Homo sapiens: one gene and its partners. The protein of the gene in region 1 interacts with the protein of each later gene in a biochemical or structural test. Each region holds a gene or a part of one and is shown in the gene's direction. Other genes may lie near its edges.

The links.
Region 2: the proteins of ARFIP1 (region 1) and ARF5 form a complex in vitro, tested with the Homo sapiens proteins (one study listed by BioGRID).
Region 3: of the proteins of ARFIP1 (region 1) and PRKD2, one has a biochemical effect on the other in vitro, tested with the Homo sapiens proteins (one study listed by IntAct).
Region 4: the proteins of ARFIP1 (region 1) and ARF3 form a complex in vitro, tested with the Homo sapiens proteins (2 studies listed by BioGRID).

What each region holds. Positions count from the first base shown.
Region 1 is NC_000004.12:152,880,943-152,887,977, forward strand, and holds part of ARFIP1 (arfaptin-1), read left to right. Parts: intron 1-20; coding exon 21-242; intron 243-1,780; coding exon 1,781-1,938; intron 1,939-7,035. UniProt on the Homo sapiens protein: Plays a role in controlling biogenesis of secretory granules at the trans-Golgi network. Mechanistically, binds ARF-GTP at the neck of a growing secretory granule precursor and forms a protective scaffold.
Region 2 is NC_000007.14:127,584,330-127,591,445, forward strand, and holds the start of ARF5 (ADP-ribosylation factor 5), read left to right. Parts: upstream 1-4,081; 5' UTR 4,082-4,169; coding exon 4,170-4,236; intron 4,237-4,753; coding exon 4,754-4,834; intron 4,835-5,155; coding exon 5,156-5,265; intron 5,266-5,426; exon of another isoform or gene 5,427-5,517; intron 5,518-5,539; exon of another isoform or gene 5,540-5,622; intron 5,623-5,736; coding exon 5,737-5,808; intron 5,809-6,633; coding exon 6,634-6,759; intron 6,760-6,883; coding exon 6,884-6,970; 3' UTR 6,971-7,116. Other genes in the region: GCC1 (GRIP and coiled-coil domain-containing protein 1), read right to left, coding at 1-853.
Region 3 is NC_000019.10:46,673,816-46,679,149, reverse strand, and holds the end of PRKD2 (serine/threonine-protein kinase D2), read left to right. Parts: intron 1-486; coding exon 487-754; intron 755-1,693; exon of another isoform or gene 1,694-2,010; intron 2,011-4,031; coding exon 4,032-4,117; intron 4,118-4,414; coding exon 4,415-4,627; 3' UTR 4,628-4,834; downstream 4,835-5,334.
Region 4 is NC_000012.12:48,935,223-48,940,522, reverse strand, and holds the end of ARF3 (ADP-ribosylation factor 3), read left to right. Parts: intron 1-415; coding exon 416-526; intron 527-743; coding exon 744-868; intron 869-1,414; coding exon 1,415-1,576; 3' UTR 1,577-4,784; downstream 4,785-5,300. Other genes in the region: peptidyl-prolyl cis-trans isomerase FKBP11, read left to right, coding at 4,785-4,869.

The sequences.
Region 1 (7,035 bases):
AATGCATCTTCCACTTTTAGTGTACTCGACAGATTATCTCTGAGAAGCTAGGCCGTGGCTCAAGAACTGTGGACCTTGAACTTGAAGCTCAGATTGATATATTAAGGGATAACAAGAAAAAATATGAAAATATTTTAAAACTGGCTCAAACATTGTCGACCCAGCTTTTCCAGATGGTACATACCCAAAGGCAACTTGGAGATGCATTTGCTGACCTGAGTTTGAAGTCACTAGAACTTCATGTAAGATTATTCTAAATAACTATTAGGGATGGGAGAAAATGATAATAGAAGTATTCTAAGAGGTAATTTGTTATTGTGATTTGCTGAACTCTTAATGAAGATGGAATTCTGAGATTCTCTTTTAAGATATTTCATATCACTTTAAGAAGGCCCTCTTAAAGTGATATGACTTCTGTTAACTTTACTTTTTATGAATTATCATATGTATATAAATCTTTCATATTTTTCTTCCTGTTTGTTAATATTTTATTTTGCCTTTTACTCCTTAATCAATATCAAGGGTTACTGTTGTAATATGTTCTGTTAACTTTTTCTAAAAGTTGTAAAAATGTTGTTTTCTGTATTATTCTATTTCCAGTAACATTTATGTAGACTTCAGTGAAGTGTGTAACTTAGCTTGTGGAAATTTGGTGCCAAAAATCTTAAGCTGTCCTGCTTTTCATTTTAGTTTTTACATGCATTGATTGGTAATCTTTTTATGTGGTCCTTTATCTGCCAATATTTGCAACAAATCAAGGTCTATAATATTTTGAAGACTGAGTACAGAGTGGAGTTACATGGACATCTCTTAAATGGAAAATGGTTTTAGCATAATAAGGATAATTTTACTTTCCTGCTATTTTCTGAATTATTGAATACTTTGTCACCTAAGAAACGTAATTACAGCTATTGCAATAGCATTAAATTTGTATCTTCTAATATTTTAGTTAATTTAATATTACATTATTTGTTTCAACTGAAATTGAAAAGTGTTTTGTAACAAACTGGAGAATTATCAAATTAAATGATACATCTTAGAATATGTGATCGGTTTTTTATTTGGTTAGGTGCATCCTGATTAATCTGTTAATTAGTAAAACTTGCACTGGAAAGCTTTCACTGCTGAATATACAGAGCTAGAGTTAGTTCTTGCCATATCTGAAGGAGTCATGTGTAATGTTTACTGCACCAAGATGCAGTTTATTCAAAAAGAATGAACTAAAGCTGGTGTTGAGTGATCCTTCCTCAGTTGTGTGCCTAAATAGAGCTGAGCTTGGGAGTCAGCTAGTCACCAAGTTTACAAAGAAATATGTATTGTTAATATTTATACTTTGAGGAGAATCAGTCAAAACACAAAAAAAATGCACTTTGTTTTATGTCTGAAAGTTTTAACCAATTATTACCTAATTTGGCTGTGAAAGTTATAGTTTCTCTGATTAATAATCTGCTCTATTTTTCTTTCCAACAGCTGTGCTTATAGTATAATAGAAACAAAATGTAGAAATGAAAATATTGTTTCTACTACAAAGTAACTTAAAAAAATTATTTAGCTTTTAGGTATGTATCTGAGCTGATGACAATTTTGGTTTATTAGACTTTTTCAGTAATTATATGGCTAGCTGTGATTTCGATTCTTAAAGACGGAAAGGAAAAGTAAAACTGCTACAGCTAGATCTCTATCTAAATCACATATTTTCCCATTAGTGACGTGCTTGAGATTTTTAAGTCACTTTTACTGATTTATTACTGAATAAATTAAGGTGACTTCTTTGTTTTAGGAAGAATTTGGCTATAATGCCGATACCCAGAAACTGCTGGCTAAAAATGGAGAGACTCTTCTTGGGGCCATTAATTTTTTCATTGCTAGTGTGAACACTTTGGTGAATAAAACCATTGAAGATACATTAATGACTGTGAAACAGTATGAAAGTGCCAGGTAAGGTATACATTTTCACTGTGTTGTCTGTTTTACAGATGGCATATAATTCAGTTAATTTTTTGGTTACAAACAACAGAAACCAACTCTGGCCAATATGGGCAGGAAAAAAATGTACTGGAAAGTTATAGGATGCCTCTACAGACCTGGCAGAAAGGGAGAGAACAAGATTCTGGAAACAACCAAGAACCAAAGCCAAGTTAAGCCTCAGAAGAATCTAATTAGAACCCCTATGCTGGGTGCCTCTAGTACTTGATGCTGCCACAGCTACCATAAATAATTTCCTAAATACCCATGAATACTTGCTTCATTGCCTTGAGATTATCTAATTGAGCCTTGGTCATGTGCCCAAACCCTGCCTTCTAGTGAGTAGGGAAATGGAGGATCTCCCAGCTCTGGCTTCTTTAGAAGAGGACAGGGCCCTATGTTCTACCAGGTAGGTATTACATGGTCCTCTATACTCTCGCCTAAATTTACCTTTCATCCTTATTACCACTGCTTCCACAATAGCCAGACCCATACTTTCAGTTTCTATTGAATAAATAAGCTCATTTTGCCTCCATGATTTTTGTTTGTTAGGATATCAGTCATCTTCCATTTATCCAGATTATAACAAGCCTTCAAACCCTTTCAAATTTTACCTTTTATATAAATTAAATATTTGACTTGTATTTTGATAACTGTTCATAATGCAGTGTTTTTATACATCCTATTTTAATGGGTTTTTGTATATCCATATTCATATATATATGTATATATACAGTTTCCCTGTCTCATAACTATCCTGTTAAATGGTGAACAAAATATATATTAATAAATATATTAATAAATATTTTGAAGGGTCTAAAATATGGCAGACCTATAATAGCCTTTTTCACCTTTTGATTCCAGGCCCAATTTTTTCCCCATATGCCCTACCCCTTTTATTTAAGTATCATTCTAGTCCCTTTTGAGGTTTTTTTCTTTTGAGCACTCAAAATTCTTATTTTCCATTATACTTTTTATGCATAGTTGAAGATAAACTTTACCTTTTAGAAGGATAACTTTACTCTTTGGCCTCTTATCCTAGTTTAATGGTATGAGAAATACCTGTAAAAAACTCCAAACTCATCTAGTATTTTTGCAATTGAGTGCTTATTAAATATATATTTCCTTACACTTCAATTAAGTAAAAGCCCAAATCATTTTGAAAAGTTAATTTTTGATGTTTTCACAGGAAGAGATGCTTCTGTCCCATACCATGTTTATTTTGTCATTTTCCATTTAGTATTAAAGTATGAGATTCTTATTGACTTGAAAATGAAGGTCAAACAGCTGTGGTTGTATGGAGGGGTAAGGGTGAGGATAGCTGTTAGTAAGATAGCCTTCCGTGGAAATCTCTTCAATAACATTCTCAGTAATTGGTGTTTCAGTCTCAGTGTAAATCCTTTCATGGAAATTATATTTTTCAAAGGGTTCATTATGTATATGAATTTTAAAATTCATTTATATAAGTTTTACTTGATCCTTTTCTAAATTTTTCTGTTCCTTGTTCATAATGTCCTAATTTGTTCATAATGGTACTGTTTCTTTTATCTCTAATCATTTTAAATATTCATATTTTCTAGTCCTTCTGATTGTTTTAACATGTATGGGTTTTAAAGATGGATATTGTTTTCTTCCAAAAATACCCCCACCACCTCCTAGTTGAGAACTTTGTGAATCTAGTTTCTCTACTTTGCAATTGTCTACCTATCCTGAAATATATTTTCGTTAATAATAATCTCTTTCCCTTCAGCTTTTATTTCTAAACAGTTTATAATTAATTTGTAGAGGAGAAAACACTCTAGAGGTTAAATGGTTTGCTCACTTGTAGTCAATTTCAAAGGCAAAATAAGAACCCATTGGTTCTCTATGGTTCACATTTTATCAGTAGGCCTTATACCTGAGTATTAGTGCCCTAAGTATAATGTGGTATAAGATCTCAGATTATAAAATACAGTATATAGGTTCATTTGGAACTTTTGAACAAAATTATAAATCAAGTTACATGTACTTGGTGGCTGGTTTCTTAAGGGAAACCCTTACACAGCCTCTGTGTGTACTTTAAAAAACAACAACAGTAATGTTGTTTTTGTTTTATGTCATCCCGTAATTTATCCTTTTTTATTCAAATTACAATGTATGATCTTATTCATTAAGCTTAGCTTGGGGTTTGACTTTTCTGTTGTTTATGAAATAGCTGTGGAATTGGCTAGTTGTTAACACTAAAACCTTGCCTACTGATGGATAATAGTCAAAAAGAATCCAAGGTTAAAAGTTTTTCAGTAGCTGAATTTCCTTCTCTGTCAAAGCCAGAATTTACTGACTTTTAGGGCAAGGGTCATCTATTTGATCAGTGCAAAAAGTGGTAATTTAGGCAAATGCCCGAGTGGCCTTTTAATCCTCCCTATTATGCATTGTGTACAAGTATTTCCTAGCCCTCTGGTGCTTCATGTATAGAAAATCTTGTAACAGCCCATTCAACACTTCTCCACAGCAGCACCAACAAGGGAGTCAATTGTGGTCGAGACTTTTCAGATGTGGACACCTGTTCTCTAGAAGTTTTACATAAGCCATAAAGTAACCGTCACTAACTTTGTTGATACGGACTCAGTTCAGACGGGCAACCTTGAAGTGAAGTTGCTTTTTGAAAACTTAGTGAGCTTCTCTTCTTGGTGGTAATGAGCACTGTTAGAGAAGCTATTATGGAAAGTTTTACTTTGGTACCACCTACAAACTCTGAATGTAAAATTAAGAAATATAAGGTCAGTATTATAACTTTGAATATGTTTGAGTTAATCACTGTTGTTTAGAAATGCGCTCCAAGGCTATTGAAGGATATTTGTCCTTAGATTAAATCACCATGTATTACTATTTATTTAGTTCTACTTTTTTCTCTTTTATTTCCTATTGTTTTTAGTGTGCTTGCTTCTAGATACCCCTCTTCTAATTTGGCCATAATAATAAGCATTCTAAAGGTATCAGTTATTACCAGGTATCCTGTGTGTTTTATCTATATGAAGTTTTTGTGGAGATTTTTGTTCACATTTATAGATTGAAAAACTGGAGCACAAAGAGATGAAATAACCAGCTCAAGAATAGAGCCAAAAGGCAGAGAGGTCATTCAGCTTGGCTCCTGAACCCATGGATTTAACTAACTAGTTATTATTGCCAAGTCAGTCTTGCCTCCTAAATCTTTTGTATTTGTCTCCTTAGCTCCAATGCCTTTGTCCTGATTCAGTGACTCATTTCTTATATGTCCATCGTTTTCTAATAGGTTTCCTTGCTCCTGATTTTTTAATCATTTATTCTATCCTCCATCTCTTACACTACCACCAGGGTCATCTTTCTATCCTGATACAATCATGTCATTTTTATGTCAGATCAACATTCTTCAGTGGCTTCCCATTACTTCTCCTACTGGATTAAATTTAAACACTTTAACATGGCCTGTAGGGCTGCTTACTTTCAATCCTGCCTGCCTGTCTAATGTTAATTCCTTCCATTGTCATGTTCCAGCTTCAGATTCTGACATACCGAATTCCCAAATGTGTCATTGTATCTTACAAATCTATGCCTTTGTCCATGCTATTCTCTTCAGAATCAGAGTATCCTACTGATTTCTGTATCCCAATTCACCTAGCCAGCTTTTACCATCCTTCAAATTTTAATTATAGTATTTTAATTCTGTCTGAGATACCTTTTCAGATATCTAATTAAATAATTATTCCTCTTGATTTCCATTATACCTTACCCTCATTTATGGTAGTTCTTATTATCTCATTTTGTTGTAATTGTTTACAAGGTTCTCTTCCTCTAGAATGCGAGCTTCTTGAGGATAAACATATCTGTTCATCTTTATAGCTCTACTTTCTAACACAGTGCCTGGAACGTGGAAAGTGCTCACTTGAGAATTGTTGAATGAATCAGTGTATCAGTGAATGAATGAATGGTTCTCTTTTGACCCTGAAAGAGGCCAATTAAATTAAATCTTAACTCATACTGCTAAATTCAGTATGAGTTAAGAATAAATTAGGATCAGTGTGAAGGACTGATGTATTCTTTCTCAAGTCATATATACAATATAGATTATGTTATTTAAAGTATTGTTAATTCCCAGAATAGGAGATGTGAATTATACACCTAATATCTCCAAATAAAGAGCTTTAGTTTTAGGGTATAAGCTTTGTGATTCTGATCTTGACTAAATTAGAGGTCACTTTGCTTCTTCTTTGCTGAGTACCGAATAGTTGAAGCTGCTGGATAAATCACTGTTTAATAAGCAAGATAGTACTATACTTAGACAGGCACTGTGATAGAGCTATTATGAGGAGTTATGGGATCTTGGAGTGATGACAGTGGTGGGGTAACTATTTGAGTTGATGGGGGGAGAATATCAGAGTGAGGCATCTTACAGAACACAGGATGGTAAGTGCTCTACAATAGATACTGTTGTTACATTCTGAATACTGATGTTACAGAAATTCATCTAGAGTTGTGTTGTCAAGTATAGTAGCCACACATGTCTGGTGAGCACTTGAAATGTGGCTAGTCTGAATTGAGATGGGATAGAAGTGTAAAATACACAGTGGATTTCAAAGACTCACTACCCACTCTCCAAATGTAAAGTACCTATGAATAATTCTGTTACATTGATTACATGCCACAATGATTAATATTTTAGATATATTGGGTAAAATGAAATATATTGATAACAGGTGAAATTAATTATTATTTCATTGTAACTACTAGAAAATTTTAAATTACATGTGTTACTCACATTACATTTTTGTTGTGCATTGCTAACCCAGACTTTTTTCAGAACCATTTACACTTCCGTTAGTTTTAGTATGCCATTCTAGAGTCTGCTGTCCTTACCTGCTTTGCCTAATCAGTACTAAGCAATTCACTTGGGGTATTTATTCTACCCTTGATCTTGTTTTGACATTTATTTTTTTTAACTGGTTTTTAGATTTTGGAAATTTTACTTGTCAGTTAATACTGTGCTTTGAGAGAAATAGTTAATGAGATTAACCAGCAGCTTTGTTCTTATTTAAATAGCTCTTTGTTTTTAAA
Region 2 (7,116 bases), on another chromosome or scaffold:
TCTGTTCAGCTGCATATGCTCGTCCTGCCAAGGCTTCTCGGGTCTCTTCTAACCTAAGCTCCAAGTCCTGGCGCTGGGTCCTCTCCTCCTGCAGCAGCTTCTGGAGCTCACGCAGCATCAAGGCATGGTCACTCTGCTCTTGGGCCCGATCATGCTGCTGCGTGATAAGCCGGGCTTTGGTTTCTGCTATTTGCTCCTGCAGCCCCTTCAATTCTCCCTCCAGGCGGGCCCTCTCCTCCTCCGCCTTGTTACTGGCATCCTCTAAGTCCTGTTTCATCTTTTTCTTGTCAGCCAAGTAAGAAGCCTCCATGCGGGACTTCTCCTGAGTGACTGTAGCCAAAGAACTGGTCAAAGTAGCCAACTGAGTCTTCAGCTGGTGCAGTCTTTTGTCCACCTCCCCACCTGCAAATGGCCCATCCCCACTGCTACTGCTAACGCCACTCTCGGACCAACTGGCCTCTTCGGACTTTGGAGGTGGTGGTCCACGGGCCGGTCTGTCATCTTCTACCCCAAACTCACCCTTGGTGCTGGTGAGACTGGCCGCAGTATCCAAGCTAGTGGCGGTCCCAGTGCTATCCTCGCTGTGAGTGGAGCACCGGTCATCCACAGAGTCAGGAAAGGTGAGGCCTGGAAGCTGGACACCTGCGAGGCCCACATCTGCCTCGTGGGATACCGACAGCACCTTGATGCTGGCCTCTAATGCCTCTTTCTCCTTCAGCAGGCTTTTATAGGCACGGACCACATCCTTGAGCCGTGCCTGGTACTGGAGAAGCTGCTTCTTCTGGGTCTCTATAGTCTCCAGCAAGTCCTTCTTGCTCGGGCCGCCCCCGAAATTCATCCCAAACTTCTCCATGGAGGGTCTGAACGGATTGCCCCACGTCAGCTTTCCAGCAGAACGGGAGAGGGCCGTGAAGACGCAGGCGGGGGCTTAAAGAAACAGCGAGCGGGCTGTCCGGCGGCGGGCCGCACACCTACTCCACCTAGTTATCCCGGACCTAATGCGGAACGGCCGGACGGACTGGCGAAAGCGGCCGCCCGGTCCCAGGCCCGGAGGGCTGGGGCGGATTCTACCCCGGAGGCGGGGCGACACTGGCACCAGAGGTGCGCACTGCCAGGGCTCGTTAGCGCTGGCCCAGAAGCCGCTCCGCACTCTCCGCTCGTCTGGGCCACAGCAGCCCGGGCCGGCCCCCTCGGCCCACGTCGGCCAGAGGGTTACGCTGAGCTCGGTCCCATCACGACATCCTAACTAAAGCTGCCTGCCGACAACGGCGCTTCCGTGTCCGCTGGAAGTGACGTCAGCGAGGCGCCGCAGGCTCCGCCCCCAGTGGGCCCAAGGTAGGCGGGGCCAAGTCGGCCGGTGGGTGGGCGCGGCCTGTTGAGAACGCAGTGGGGCCGCGAGCGGCAAAAAACAGGCTTGGGAAAGGCGAAGCCAGCAAAGTCGAAGACACCAGAGTGGCACCGGTTTTGTGAGAGCGCCCAAGCTTGACCTCGGGCTACGCTCAGCGAGCGACAGAGCAACGTCGCACTGCATTCTTACCAAACACCCAGGTGAACGACGCATCCAACGATTTGGGAGCTCAGGACCCATGGTCCCTAAAAGGCAACAATTAAGACTCCCATTTAGACCACGAAAACTGCAGTCCTCTATAGCACAGTGCTTGGTACCTAGTAGGCATACAGCCTAATAGTACCCTTCCTTAGTTCTGCTGAGTTGATTCCACAAATATTTACGGAGGGCACTCTATAGCCATGTCTATCCTGAGTGCCAGCTATATACCAGGAGCTCACAAGAGTTTTGCTATTTAGTCTTTACAGTAATTCTTGTAAGCACTATACTCATTAGCACTATTTTACAGATATGAAAACATGAGGCAGAAAGGTTATACGTAACATGCCCAAGGTCACACAGCTAGTAAGTTTAGGAGTTCTAATCAGTCTGATTCTCAACGTATCACGTGCTGTGCCAGATGGTAACACCATTAAGAGACACGACCTTGCCCTCAGGGAGCTCGCAATCTAGTGAGGAACCAGACATACAAATATGTCCTGCTATCACACCAGTATGTCTGGGTATATTCAAAGTGGTATGAAAGTTAAGAGGAAAGAGGCCTGTCTAGGTGAGGCATGGAAGGCTCTTGGGAATAATACTTTGGGATTTGAAGGATGAGTCGTGATTGTCCACCTAACCAGAGATCAGGGAAACTAGCATTCCAGGCAGGTGGAAAAAAATGCAAAGACCTGTAGGGTATCGGAGTTTGACTCACCCAGAAAGCATTCAGTAGCTTAGGGTATGTGAAGGAGGTGACAACAGAGGGGCTGGCACAATAGGTAGGGACCCAACTTATGGCATTTAAATTTTATCTTGGGTTATAGTAAGGCCCTAATGGATTTTAATCTGAAAAGTGGGATGTCATCAAGACTTGTATGACATGTTGGAGGGAACAAGGGGCAGGAAACCTGTGAGGAGACTTTCAGTCATGGGGAACAGAAGGTAGTGACAACAGAGATGGAAGCAAAGAGGCTGATAAAAGAGCTAAATGTAGAATTGACCTAACTTGGTGAACACTAGTTCTGTTATTATATTGGAACTCTCTAAAATGTACTCTTCAGCCTCGTAAAAGCCTTCTTAGGGATGCAAGTCTATGACTGAAGAGAAAAGGAAAGTCATTCACTCACTCATACCTGTTTCCCAAAGTCTGTCCTTGTTACAGACTTTGCAGATCAGGATGGGGCAGGCCCTGGAGGTCTGTTCAGACCCCGTTTCTCAGTGGCCCAAATAACATCAAGCTGTATTATACATAACATTCAGTCACATTATCAAATCATTTTAAGATTCACCATAACCCCTTAAGTTAGAACAAGTCTCATTTTATAGATGATGAAATAACGGAAGAGTTATGAGGAGTGCTGAAGCCAAATCCTCAAGAAATGGCAGAATTAAGATTTGAACTAAAGCCTGAAATCACGTGCTGGCAAGTGGTGGGTGCTCAGTAAATATCTGCTGAAAAAGCAAATGAATGAGTGAAGGTTTTTTTATTCCCAGCTCAGTTTACCTCGAGTCCATAAACAATTGATCCTAGAAGCCCACTGGGAATCCAGAGTAGACATAACACCTACCCTCGCTCCATTGAGAATCTATCAGTCCAGTTCAACTGAACAAGCATTTGTTAGGCCTAATAATGCCTGGCAATGAGCCAGTCTCCACCGCAGAAGAATTTCATTCCTATTTTGCTATTCTCCTCTCAGATGTTAAAATGAGGCAGGGAAATGACATGTGAAGCTCTTTGGGTCTACGGAGTCAAGATCTTCACAAAATCCTGAATGGATGTGCAAGAATAAGCCAGGTCCACAAGTCTGTGGCAAAGTGAGGAACTTCGGCAAAGCGGCCAGCGCCTGGACTGAGAGGCGGGGCCCGCAGGGCGATCCAAACGAAGGTGGACTTCTCCAACAGCCCAGGAGTGGGTCTGTGACCCCGCCGCCCAAGGCCGGGAATCTTACACTGGTTCTGCGGATTGGGAATTAGGAAGTAGGCGTTTTGAGGAACCATGGAAGCTAGCTAGCACTCGGGCACCTTCCCCTACCTCCCGCGCACTCTTCACACGACCACCTACTACGCGCAAGTCCCTCGGTGGAAGATGAGGCAGTAAAGGGAGGACCAAGACCCCTAATCGCAGCTTCCACTCCCCAAAGGAGAGTGGTGCACACGTTCAGTGCTACTGGTTCCCAAGGGCTAAAACCGGAGCCCCTAGGGGCCTGGACGCAACAAACCAAAGCCCAGCGGCCGGCCACTGAAAATGGGGGCAGGGGCCGCTGCGGAGCGATGAATCCTTTCCTCAGCCGCGCTCGGGCTGCCGGTTCGGCGGCCACAGGCCTGGCAGGCGCGTTAGAGACCTAGACCCGTTCCCAAGTAAGGGCCGCACGGGACCCAGGCCAGCAGCGGCAACTCGCGGAGCTTCAGCTCCCCTAGGAGCCAGAGCCGGGGGAGGCGGGGCCGAGAGCCGGGGGCGGGGCCCGGACGGGGGCGGGCCCGCGGTGACGTCGGGAGGGCAGCGACGCGCGGAGGCGGCGGCGGAGCCTCCTCCTGCTGCTGCTGCGCCCCATCCCCCCGCGGCCGGCCAGTTCCAGCCCGCACCCCGCGTCGGTGCCCGCGCCCCTCCCCGGGCCCCGCCATGGGCCTCACCGTGTCCGCGCTCTTTTCGCGGATCTTCGGGAAGAAGCAGATGCGGATTCTCATGGGTGAGGCAGATCGAGCGCGCGGCCCGGACCGGGGCGCCGGCCCCGGCGCAGCCCTTCCGCCCCCGCGTCCCTCCAGCCCCGCTCACCTGGGTCTCTGGCCCCGAGTCACCCACCTCATAACGCCCCGGGGCCTCTGCTCTCGGGCGGGTCCCGGTCTGCATCGCCGACCCCGGGGCCTGACACCCGGAGCTGCGGGCCTGGGTGGGGTGAAGCTCCCTCCGCCCCAGCCCGGCTGGTAAGAAGGGAGGATTCCGCCCTTGGAGACGACTTTTAAAACGAGCGCGGCCTACCTCCCGTGCCCCTTGCCTCCCAGTCCTCTCCCGCTCCGCGCCCTCTTTGGAGTTGGCTCACGCCACCCGACTGCCCTCCAGGCCTCAAAGGTAGATAACGACGCGCACCTGGAGGCGCTCCCGCTCTCCGCCCCAGTCACCATCAGCTGTTGTGGCCTCTCCCTTTCCCTGGTCTCTAGGGGGCTCCCTCGCTCCCATCTCCATCCCTGTGCCCCTTTCCGTTGCAGTTGGCTTGGATGCGGCTGGCAAGACCACAATCCTGTACAAACTGAAGTTGGGGGAGATTGTCACCACCATCCCAACCATAGGTGAGCCCGGGGACGAAGCAGGGAGCGGGAGCGCCGCGGCGGGCCCTCGCGGGGTCTGCTCCCAGTTCTGCCACTTTTCTGGAGCTGACCCTGACACCAGATACAGCTATTTGAGAAGTGGGTCAGGGTATCTCTACGTGGATACCGGAGGCAGGGTGGATGTGACCTAGCCCCGCCCTGTTGACCGCCAGTTCTGGGGTTCTGTTCCCCTGGGCCTTGATCATTGCCTTCTGGTTTTGTGTCCCTGCTGAAATCTAAGTAGTTTTAGTGAGTTCCTTTCTTTCAGGAGTTTTCTCATCTTTTTTTTCCAATTATCTGCAGGCTTCAATGTAGAAACAGTGGAATATAAGAACATCTGTTTCACAGTCTGGGACGTGGGAGGCCAGGACAAGATTCGGCCTCTGTGGCGGCACTACTTCCAGAACACTCAGGTGGAGTGTTGGGAGGGGACTTTCTAACCCCACGGGAAAAGGTGTTAGGGCTGGGAGAACAGAATTGTTGGCCTAGGCTGGGCCCCCAGGCCAAGGAAAAAACCCTTCCCCACTTCTACCCCTTCTGTTTGGCTATCCCCTACTCACTCTTCAGAACTCACCTTAGTCTTCCCCAGCTTGGACTTCTCTTTAGAAGCAGGATTCTGGGACCAGGCTGCCTGATTTAGCCCTCATAACATGTCTTTATTTCCTTGCACATCTTTGGATAAACTACTTCCTCTTTGCAGTGGGGTCTCTAGTTTGTGCCATGACTCCTGTAGAGCTTCTATAGAGTTCTGTAAACTTCTGTAGAGTTTACTAGATGAGAAGGATTGACACAATTACAAATGGGAAGAAAACAGAAAGGGCCACACTACGGTATGTCCCAGGCAGAAGTGATTGCTTCTCCTTTCTTCCTTCCTTCCTGCCCAGGGCCTCATCTTTGTGGTGGACAGTAATGACCGGGAGCGGGTCCAAGAATCTGCTGATGAACTCCAGAAGATGGTGAGTACCCAGAGCCCTGGGAACTGAGCCCTCAGCTTGGGGACAGAGTGATCTCTGTAGTGGTATAGAAGTCAGGGAGCCCCCAACAGGCATTGAAGACCAGGAATATAAGTTTTTCTTTGTGGACAGACACATTGTGTATCTCACCCTGTTTTGGATGGGAGTGACTTTTTCACTTTTTCTGTGCATTGTCTTGTCTTTTTTTTTTTTTGAAATGGGAGTTTTGCTGTTGTTGCCCAGGCTGGAGTGCAATGGTGCAATCTCGGCTCACTGCAACCTCCGTCTCCCGGGTTCAAGCAATTCTCCTGCCTCAGCCTCCCAAGTAGCTGGGATTACAGGCGCCCGCTGCCATGCCCAGTTAATTTTTGTATTTTTAGTAGAGACGGGGTTTCACCATGTTGGCCAGGCTGGTCTTGAACCCCCAACCTCAGGTGATCCACCCGTCTTGGTCTCCCAAAGTGCTGGGATTACAGGAGTGAGCCACTGCGCCCGGCCGCATTCTCATGTCTTTACATCTGAGTCTGAGAAGTTGTGGGAGAGATGGGACTTATATGTGGCAAAGAGAAACATTTTACATTCCTGCCTTTTCCATTTGGAAATGTTGTCATTTTGCCTAGGCAAGTACTCAAATTAGGAAAAGGTCTTTCTTTTCTGGACTTATGGGCTCAGGTCACCTCAAGCTCATTTACAACTATGTCTTGTCTTCAACGGCAGACTGCACAATACTTTTTTTTTCCAATCAAGATGCTAGGAGGTAGAAAGGGAATTCCCCAACACAGTAGAGGAGACGCAGCCTGGGTCCCACCTTCTCTTCTCCTCTCTCAGCTGCAGGAGGACGAGCTGCGGGATGCAGTGCTGCTGGTATTTGCCAACAAGCAGGACATGCCCAACGCCATGCCCGTGAGCGAGCTGACTGACAAGCTGGGGCTACAGCACTTACGCAGCCGCACGGTAGGGGTCCTGCCCACCTGGTGCTGAATCCTGCCTCTTGAGGGAAGCTGCAGGCTGGGACAGAGATATAAAGGCATTCCTTTTGTTCCTGGTTGCTGACCTCTTTCTTTCCTTTTCCCCACAGTGGTATGTCCAGGCCACCTGTGCCACCCAAGGCACAGGTCTGTACGATGGTCTGGACTGGCTGTCCCACGAGCTGTCAAAGCGCTAACCAGCCAGGGGCAGGCCCCTGATGCCCGGAAGCTCCTGCGTGCATCCCCGGGATGACCAGACTCCCGGACTCCTCAGGCAGTGCCCTTTCCTCCCACTTTTCCTCCCCCATAGCCACAGGCCTCTGCTCCTGCTCCTGCCTGCATG
Region 3 (5,334 bases), on another chromosome or scaffold:
GCTGGTCTCGAACTCCTGACCTCAAATGATCCATCTTCCTTGGCCTCCCAAAGTGCTGAGATTGCAGGCATGAGCCACCACGCCCCAATCATGTATATTTTGAGGCTATTAAAAAAAATCTGCATTATTCAAAAGAGGAAACAGCGACCCATTGGAGGTGGCAGAGGTATAGCAGCAGCTAGCATTTATTGTGCACCAACTGAATGCCAAATATTGTCCTGTGGGCTTTGGATGGTTTAATTCACTAACCATCATGGCAGTCCTCTGAGATAGGTGCTCTTCTGCTCTTCTTCCTATAGATGGGGAAACTGAGGCACAGAGGGGGGAAGTCACCTGCCCAGGGTTGCTCAGCTAGTGAGCCAAGGAGCCTGGATTCAAACCAGCATCCAGCTTTCTCTGGAATACCATGGAGGGTGGTGTGGTGGGGATGCTGGGGTGGGTGCGGCTCCATCACCTGGTGGAGCCTCCATCCCTTGCCCTCTGCAGGTGAAGCTGTGTGACTTTGGCTTTGCTCGCATCATCGGCGAGAAGTCGTTCCGCCGCTCAGTGGTGGGCACGCCGGCCTACCTGGCACCCGAGGTGCTGCTCAACCAGGGCTACAACCGCTCGCTGGACATGTGGTCAGTGGGCGTGATCATGTACGTCAGCCTCAGCGGCACCTTCCCTTTCAACGAGGATGAGGACATCAATGACCAGATCCAGAACGCCGCCTTCATGTACCCGGCCAGCCCCTGGAGCCACATCTCAGCTGGAGGTGCCTGGGGCCCGCCTACCCCATGGGCGGGTGGGTTGTGGGGTGGGGCTGGAGAAGTGGGCGGAGCCATGAGAGGGGGGTGGACCCGGAAACAGCCTGGCACCTTGGGGGTGGAGCCCAGTGCTGGGGCGGGCCTACTGGAGGGATGTGGCTACAGGAGGAGCCGTCCTGTAAAAGATGGGCTGGGACTCAGGCCTAGACTAGGTTACTTGGGCTGGAAACCAAGTGCCCCAGAAGCGCTGAGGACACTTGGAACCTTAGGGGGGCTGAGTGAGACTTGGCTTGTCTAGGGTGGGACCAGGAAAGGGACTGGACTTGAGGGTACCAAAGGGCTGCGGTGACCAGGAGAAGGGGCTGAGCCTCCCAAGGCATTGGCTGGGACCTGGAGCCTTTGGGTTTACGACCCCAAAAGGGTCAGCCTTGCAAAAAGGAGGCACCGGTGGGTAGGGTTGAGAAACAAGGGCATGGCTACTTTGCTGTGTACTGGGGCCGTGACTTGGGTGAAGATGGGCCTGAAGCCTGGGGTCGGTTCAGTGACCAAGGGAGCCAGTCTAGGGACGTGGCCGTGGAGGGTTTCCGAAGAGGTCCAGGAACAGGGCTGACCCTGAGTCCTGGAAGCTGGGAGTGGATGGGAGTGGGGAGGAGAAGGGAGCCAGGACTGAGGCAGACATTGCACTCTGCATTCTGGGGCTTTGGTGTTGTGGCTGGGCCTGATGAAGTGGCACCGGGCCTGGTGACTTGAACCTACTTGGGAATGGGTCTGTAACTTTCCCTGCTTGGAAAAGTTAAGTCCTAAGGCCTGGAGCTTTGAGGCTGGGTGTGGGATGGCATGTTTAGAGGGCCAGAGGCAGGGCTAAGATACTGGGGTGTGTCAGAAGCCAGGAGAACAAGGGACCTGTGTTGGAGCCAGGGAGCTCAGGAAGACAGATGGAGTATGGGAAGGGGGGGGATCATTCATTCATTTATTTATAACCATTTATTCAACAAGTACATTCATGTATTTGTAACCATTGATTCAACATGTTGAGTGCCCACGATGTGCCAGGCATTGACTGTTCCAGCTCTGGGAATACTGTGATGACTTGGACAGAAGGGGTCAGGTGCAGGGTAGCTCATTGAGTGGTCCGCGAAGGGTGGAAAGGGGAAGGGTCCTCTCTGGAGGGTGCGGCTTCATGGAGCAGGTGGAGCAGGGTGACACGGAGGTTGCTCGGTGCAGGACAAGACAAGGTCTTGGTGGTGGTCTAAGAGCATGGGCCCTAAGCAGTGAGAATGTGGATTGACTTGAGTCCTGGAGTAATATTGGGGGTGCTCAACACTGGCTTTTTTTTTTTTTTTGAGGTGGGGTCTCGCTCTTTCACCCACGCTGGAGTGCAGTGGCGTGATCTCGGCTCACTGCAACCTCCACCTCTTGGGTTCAAGGGATTCTCCTGCCTCAGCCTCCCGAGTAACTGGGATTACAGGCACACAGCACCATGCCTGGCTCATGTTTTATATTTTTAGTAGAGACAGGGTTTCGCCATGTTAGCCAGGCTGGTCTTGAACTCCTGACCTCAAGTTATTTGCCCGCTTCAGCCTCCCAAAGTGCTGGGATTGCAGGCATAAGCCATCACACCCCGCCAGCATTGTCTTTTGAGACCCACTCAGAAGTCCCTCAGTAAAAGTGCATCGAGTGTGCACAAGTGAATTTAAGTGTGGTTGCACCTGTGTGAGGATCACAGAATCCTGTGGGTGTTGACGGGAGCAGGGTGCCTGTGTGCACCAGGCCTCTCCTCGGATGGGTTCATACAGTGAAGCCTTGTCCTTCATGGCTTCCCATCAAGGAGAGAGCCTCGGATGAGTGCTGGCTTGTCTTGAAGCTTGACATTCGCTAGTCCTCTTTTTCACAATGAACAGGCCTATCTCTGAGCCTTCTGCAGGCAATGGTGACTAACTACCATCTGATGACATTTTGTTTTGTTTTGTTTTGTTTTGAGACGGAGTTTCGCTTTTGTCACCCGGGCTGGAGTGCAGTGGCACGATCTTGGCTCACTGCAACCTCTGCCTCCTGAGTTCAAGCGATTCTGCCTCAGCCTCCTGAGTAGCTGGGACTACAGGCATGCGCTACCATGCCCAGCTAATTTTTTGTATTTTTAGTAGAGACGGGGTTTCCGTGTTGGCCAGGCTTGTCTCGAACTCCTGACCTCGGGTGATCCACCCGCCTCGGCCTCCCAAAGTGTTGGGATTACAGGCATGAGCCACCGCGCCCAGCCTGATGACATAGATGCTCCCTGATTTGCACTGGGGTTAGATAAACCTGATAAACCCATTGCCCATTGTAAATTGAAAATATCATAAGTTGGTCAGGCGCAGTGGCTGAAGCCCATAATCCCAGCACCTTGGGAGGCCAAGGTAGGCAGATTGCTTGAGCCCAGGAGTTCAAGACCAGCCTGGGCAATGTATCTCTACAAAAAATACAAAAATTAGCCGGCCATAGTGACAGGTGCTTGTAGTCCCAGCTGGCTGCTCAGGAGGCTAAGGCAGGAGAATCAATTAAGCTGGGGAGGTGGAGGCTTCAGTGAGCATTGATCACGCCACTGCACTTCAGCTTGGGTAACAATGAGACCCTGTCTCAAAAAAAAAAAAGGAAGTATTGTAGGTTGAAAATCCATTTAGGCCGGGCGCAGTGGCTCATGCCTGTAATCCCAACAATTTGGGAGGCCAAGGCAGGCGGATTGCTTGAGGTCAGGAGTTAGAGACCAGCCTGGCCAATATGGTGAAACCCCATCTCTACTAAAAATACAAAAAGTTAGCAGGACATGGTGACACACACCTGTATTCCTAGCTACTTGGGAGGCTGAGGCAGGAGAATCACATGAACCCGGGAGGCGGAGGTTGCAGTGAGCCAAGATCGTGCCATTGCACTCCAGCCTGGGCGACAGAGCGAGACTCTGTCTCAATAAATAAATAAGTAAAAATAAAAAGAATAGTACAGGTGTAATTGTATGTACCTGTATATGACAAAAAGAAAAAAAAAGGTGACATAGGGGAATGGGGAAATTGAAGTAGAGAACAGGTGAAGAGAGGGAGCTGGTGTGAACATGCATGGGCAGGAGGAGACAAATTTGTAATGTAATGAGGAAATGGGTGGGTGAGTGATTGGCACAGGTGAGGCTTCTGAGCCACCTGAGCTGGTGCAGAAGGAAGGTGTTGATGGCAGGCAGGTAGGCTAGGGGGTGCCTATTGGAGGAGGAGTGACCCTTGACCTGTAGGGCTTGACCTGTTTCTCTTTCCTGTGCAGCCATTGACCTCATCAACAACCTGCTGCAGGTGAAGATGCGCAAACGCTACAGCGTGGACAAATCTCTCAGCCACCCCTGGTTACAGGTGATGCAGGGGGCAGGGCTGGCCCATTGGCTGGATTGGAGGAAGGGGTGGGAGTAGATCGCTTATTGGCTAGGCAGGTTGTGAAGGATGTAGGTTTCCTTGGGTCTGGAATGTGGCTAGGCCTCCCATTGGCTGGGTGCAGGAAGAGGGGGTGGAGCTAAATGTCTACTGGCTGGGTGGGTTGCAGAGGGTATGGCTTCACCTTCATTGGTACCCAGCTCTCAGTGGCAAACCAGAGGATATCCAGGCACTGCTCCAATGCAGACCCCAAGCTAACCCCAGTTCTCTCGGGCCCAGGAGTACCAGACGTGGCTGGACCTCCGAGAGCTGGAGGGGAAGATGGGAGAGCGATACATCACGCATGAGAGTGACGACGCGCGCTGGGAGCAGTTTGCAGCAGAGCATCCGCTGCCTGGGTCTGGGCTGCCCACGGACAGGGATCTCGGTGGGGCCTGTCCACCACAGGACCACGACATGCAGGGGCTGGCGGAGCGCATCAGTGTTCTCTGAGGTCCTGTGCCCTCGTCCAGCTGCTGCCCTCCACAGCGGTTCTTCACAGGATCCCAGCAATGAACTGTTCTAGGGAAAGTGGCTTCCTGCCCAAACTGGATGGGACACGTGGGGAGTGGGGTGGGGGGAGCTATTTCCAAGGCCCCTCCCTGTTTCCCCAGCAATTAAAACGGACTCATCTCTGGCCCCATGGCCTTGATCTCAGCACACGGCACTCTCGAATCATTACTCTGTTGTACCAACATGGAGTTCATCTGGAAGGAGGACTGCCTGAAAAGAGGAAGGATGGAAGGGGTGGGGAGAGAGGACTGATGGGAGAGGAGTCTTGGAAGGAGGACGAGCTGGGGTAGAAAATATACAGGAAGAGTGCCAGGAGAGAAGATGAGAAGGGAGAGGGAGGAGTAATGGAGGAGGAGTTGGAAACTGGGGAGAGATGGAAGGAATGTGACTGGAGGGTAGAGAACTTGGAGAAAAAGTAATCTCATGGTTTGTGATGACTGATTTTTTATTTGGTGGTGGTGTTACTACTAATCACAACTATTAATTCAGGCTGGGTGTGGTGGCTCATGCCTATAATCCCAGCAATTTGGGAGGCCGAGGCAGGCAGATCCCTTAGATCTCAGGAGTTTGAGAGCAGCCTGGCCAACGTGGTGAAACTCCCTTTCTACAAAAAGTTCAAAAATTAGCCAAGTGTGGTGGCTTGCACC
Region 4 (5,300 bases), on another chromosome or scaffold:
TCTGCCTTTGGGGCTCCAGGATGCCAGCTTACTTCCCTTTCTTCACTCTGCCTCTCAGGCCCCACATCTTAGCTGAGGCCGACTCTGGTAGCCAAAGTACCAGAGCAGGGCTGAGTCATTTTGTAGGAGGGAGCACCAAAGACTGAGTGGAAAAGTCAGGAAAGTTGGCCCACGTTACCCAGGCAACTGTGAACCTCTCAACCAACTTCCTCATCCTCTTTGACTTCTCTTAGGTTTTCATTTTGGCCTTCAGGCTGCTAGCTTAACGATTATCAGGTCTGAGGAAGCCTTAGCTTTTGTTCCATTGTTGGTGTTATGGCCACCACTGGGGGAAAGCAGAACCAAACTCATTGTGGTGGTGTTTGCGGGGCTAGTGTTTGAGGCCAAGTGGCCATTGCCTGTTTTTTTTCCAAAGGGTTCAATGTGGAGACAGTGGAGTATAAGAACATCAGCTTTACAGTGTGGGATGTGGGTGGCCAGGACAAGATTCGACCCCTCTGGAGACACTACTTCCAGAACACCCAAGGTATGCTCAGGCCTAGCGTGGGTTGGTTGGGTATGAGCAGAGAGTGTGGCTGTCTTTGTTAATGGGTGGCCAACTGTTACCCTGCTGCAGCTCCTGGGGGCAGAAGAAAGGGAGGAAAGGGAGCAAATATTTGGAGGGTGTCAGGCAGGTGTGGTCTTTTGGTTGGGGGGAGGGGGTTACCTGTCATCTTAGTGCAGCCCATGCTCTGCCTTCCTAGGGTTGATATTTGTGGTCGACAGCAATGATCGGGAGCGAGTAAATGAGGCCCGGGAAGAGCTGATGAGAATGCTGGCGGAGGACGAGCTCCGGGATGCTGTACTCCTTGTCTTTGCAAACAAACAGGTGAGACTTCTTCCCACCCCTGAATTTGGGAGACAGCAAACTGGCTGTGGAAATTGTTGGCTCTTGGGCCTATTATATGGTTAACCCTTTTAGTATGCTCTCAATGTTAGAAGCGTGGGAAACTGAGCACTTGGCTTCTTTATGCCCCTCTTCTTGTGCCCCACCCCAAGCTTTATTTAGCAACATTTCAGTCCTCAGGAATTGTCTCAAATCTTTCTTTCATCTTGCCTGTTATCTACTTTAGGAGAATTGGCCTCACTCCTGCTGTCAGACAGACCTGATTCTTTGGTCAGTCTGAATCACGTCTCTTGCTTCCCCACCATCCTCGTATTTGGTTTCCAATTCTTCAGTACAGTGACCTCTAGTGCTTTGGATCTTGAGTTCTAGGTGACTAAATCCAAAGTAGCTCCTTAGGATCTTGTTCTGGGTTTCCTAAAATAAAGGAGGAGGGGAAGGTGCTGGTACACATTTCTTTGGTAGATGGGTGTTCTAGAAGCCTTTAAAAAATCCTGAGGCTTCTTTTTATGTGTCTCCCACGTGCTCCAGGATCTGCCTAATGCTATGAACGCTGCTGAGATCACAGACAAGCTGGGCCTGCATTCCCTTCGTCACCGTAACTGGTACATTCAGGCCACCTGTGCCACCAGCGGGGACGGGCTGTACGAAGGCCTGGACTGGCTGGCCAATCAGCTCAAAAACAAGAAGTGAAAGCCAGACAGCCCTAACAAAGCACCCCACCCACCCCTGACATACCTACTGTCACCCTGCCCCAGTCCTACCCCTTCCTCTCCATGCAAGTGTGGCCAGGGCCCTGGGTATCATGTCCACATGCCCAGCAAGAGCCTTGCCTCCCCTGCCTCCCCTCCTTTTTCCTGTCCACCTATATGACCAATCCCTAATTGCTGTCCTGATGATGAGTCATTCCAATTTACTGGATTTAAAACAAAAAGTTGTTACGGTTTCATGGGGTGGCCCCTCTCTCTCTCACCCTCTGGGTTTCGGGAGGTCGAGTGGGGTATTCTCTTTGTTTGGCAGTGGTTGCTGTCCTCTTGGCATCTGAGTCCTTTCCCTGTCCCCACAAGCCCTTCTACTCCCTGTTTGCCTTTCCTTTGCCACCCTCTCCCTGTTTTACATGGAAATTGCACGGGCCTCTCTGTGTTTGCGTGCATGTGTGCGCCTGTATATACATGTATAGAGAGATATATTTGTGGGGGCCGGGGGGAGCGGGGAGGGGGTGGAGTGAAGCTCAGGGCTTGCAGCCAGGACACTGCCCACTGGAGCCTGTCATCTGCCCCTTCCGTGTTGGTGAGATTAAGGGAAGAAGGTGGGAGGGCATTAGTCAAGCCGGACTGCCCCAGTCTTTGACTGGTTACCCTCCTCTCTGCAGGTAGGTTTTTCTGGATGATAGGACAGATGATGGATTCTTCACCACCATTTTCCTTGTACTCTTCTCTCCACCCTTCTTAGGGCTGGAGGATGGCATTTATCTCTAGATGACTGTTCCCAAGGAGATGCCACTCTGCTCTGCCTTACTGTTGGGAAGGAGAGAGGAACCCACTCACTCTTATCAGCTTAGAGTGTTCAACTGATCCTTCCCCACCATCTTCAGATCTGTTCCTCTGGAGCTTGACTGGGGGGTGGGGATGGCAAGTCCATGGTGTGTGTTAGGGACCCAGGGCATTGGGGGAAGGGAGGCGAAGGCCTGAGGTTTTCCATCTTCATTCTCTTTTGTTATTAGGAGAAGGTGAGGCATGGGCCAATCCCATTCCTGCCTTCCAGTGCCCCACCACCCTTCTGATCTTAGGGGTTGGATGGGTCATCTGTCCTTGGTCAGAATTTTCTCACCCTAGTACTCCTACTGGCCTGACCAGGGCTGACTGGGTATTCTAATGAGGAGCTGGGAAGTGGGGTGACATAGCTGACCTTAGTATCAACCCCCCTCTTCTCCAACTCTTGTTTTCTAGTCCAGGATATGCTAAAGGACGAAGATTTTCTATTGTTTCCAGGCCCTCAGACCATCCTTGCTGTCCCTTCACCCTCCATGCCCCTGCCATCCTCACTCACTTCTCATAAATGGATCTGGGGGTTAGAGTGGAGGAAATAAAATCCTGAAGTGGTTGTCAGTGCTTGTGGGATGCAGTGGTCTTCAGGATTCTCCCCGCATTATTATGTAGTTGTTCAGAAGCTGTTGCTACTGCGTCTCTCTGTCTGCAGGGGGCACTTGTTCCTGAGGTCCTCGCCTGGGTCCTGACTTCTGTAGTTTCTGTGAAGACGTGGCTGTCCTGTGGGCTCCTGTGTGTGCTGGCTGCGCCCTGAGCTCCGAGACAGCTGCCCATAACCTGCTAAGGTCAGGGCCCAGGGCCCCCCACAGCATGGCTGAGGGACCCCTTCCCAGTAGGGCTGTCCCAAGCCCCACTCCATGGGGCCAGGTTTCCTGGCCACTTTTGTTGATAGCAGATGGATCAATATTAGTAACCCCATCCAAGATTGAACTGTGAAAGAGAGGTTCCAGGGGTATCTCCCTCAGTGCCAGTTACTTAGTGATGTGTTACCCAGGATGCAGCAGGTGTGTGCAGGTATCTTGCTCTCTAGGCCTGTGTGTGTGTGTGAGTGTGTGTGTATATGGGTGTGGGTGTGTTTGTGTGTGGTGGTTGTGGGGGGGGTGTTGGAGGTTCTATTTCATTTAAAAATGTATTCATTTCCCTGGCCCCACAGATGCTTCCCTCCATACTTTTTATTTGCTCTGTTTCCTCAGATTTATTTTGTCTTGCCCCATTGCCTCTCCTTCCTTGAACTCTTTCCTTTTCAATCTCAACTCATTCACTGCTGTTGCTCATTTGCCCTTTTCCATGTATTTTTTCCTACTTAGGATTTTCCACTCTATCTTTGTGGTTCATGAGGACTTTGCCTCTTCTCCTGCCTCATTCCCTGACTTTCTCTAGTTAGATGTCAGTCCTAAATAGGTTTTCCTCACTTCAGGCCTCACCCCTCACCTTGTTTTTTTGGGGGCTCCAGGGACCAATCTGGGGCTGGAAATGTTAGGAGGTTGCCTTGGTGCTGCCCCAGATCTGTCCAGCAGGGGGCAGTAAGTGATCTTGGTAGTATCCCTGGCTGCTAAGCCCTTGGCAGGGGTGGTCCTTTCTACATTCCCATTCACTTAACAGCTCTTTTGGGATTGGGTGTTTCATTCCATTTCTGCCCACTCCCTCTCCTCTCCTCTCTGGTAGGTTTAATTTTATGCTTTCCCTGATTCCAGCTTTCTGCTTCCTGAGGACTCCCGCTCCCCCCACCCCAAAGTTTGTCTGTGGTGTTATAGTGGTAACTGCAGTTCCTCCTCTGGAATGTAGACTGTATATGTTTAATAACTCACCTTCTCTATCCTTGCTCAAAATGTGGGATAACGCGATGACTGTGACCCTGGTTGGAAATTAAACTTGTTTTATGCAGCTTTGGAGCCGACCTTCATCTTTGCTGTGCAGCAGCCGTGGGACAGTAGTTTCATGGTGAGGGGAGTCCTGTTTCTGGTCCCTCTCTCCATAGTGCTCCTTCTTTCAGCAAAGGGGTAAAAGGCACACTTGATTGATAGAGAGTAAGGTTATGGAGGAACTTAGTGCCACTCCACACTGGTTATTTCTTCCCATCATACCCCGCGGCGGGGGAGCCCAAATGAATTGGGCATCAGAGTGTGAGGGCTTCGTGACTTTCCTCCTCTAGTTCTAAAGGGTTTAAACCTGAAATCAGCTGTATTTCTCACCTGTTGGTAGACTGTATGGACTTCACTGGCTGAAGGGCCCTGAACTTGGAGGGCCCCATGTGCCTCTACTCTCAGATCTCCTCAGCCTTGCACATGAGGTGCTTCTAGTTTGAACAGAGACCCCCTCACTAGTCTAGTTCTGGACTTTGGCAGTGAATAAACATGAAGGATAAACGTCTGGGCAGTGTAATGACCTTAATCCTTCTTACAACTGATGGCCCTGCATCAGCTCTACTTCAGGCGTGTGGTTTTTCATTGTCAGGATGCCAAGCCTCATCCAGAGATCCCACAAATGTCTTGAGGAATAGACCTTTTCCATAAAGCCTCCATCCTCCCATCGCACTCCCACCACTATTCTGTTCCTCCCCTGCTACCAGTGTCTGGCTCCAGGCAAAGAAAGGGATGGTGCTACCTTTAGGGTGGGTGAGGTCTGGGTGAGCCAGGCAAGCCTTCCCCAATCTTAATATTTTCTTAAGCTTTGAGGACAGAGGTCTTCCCAGCCTGCTTTTGTGGGAAAGGGATAGGATTTAGGCATATAATAAGTTTGAGAGCCCCAAGTACCAGTGTGAAGCATATAATTTATATTCAGTTACTTCCCTGCTGCCTCCCCTGCCAATTTTCCTTTTCAGCACTTCTATTATTAATAGGCCATCACCCTCAAGGACCAGTGCTTCCACC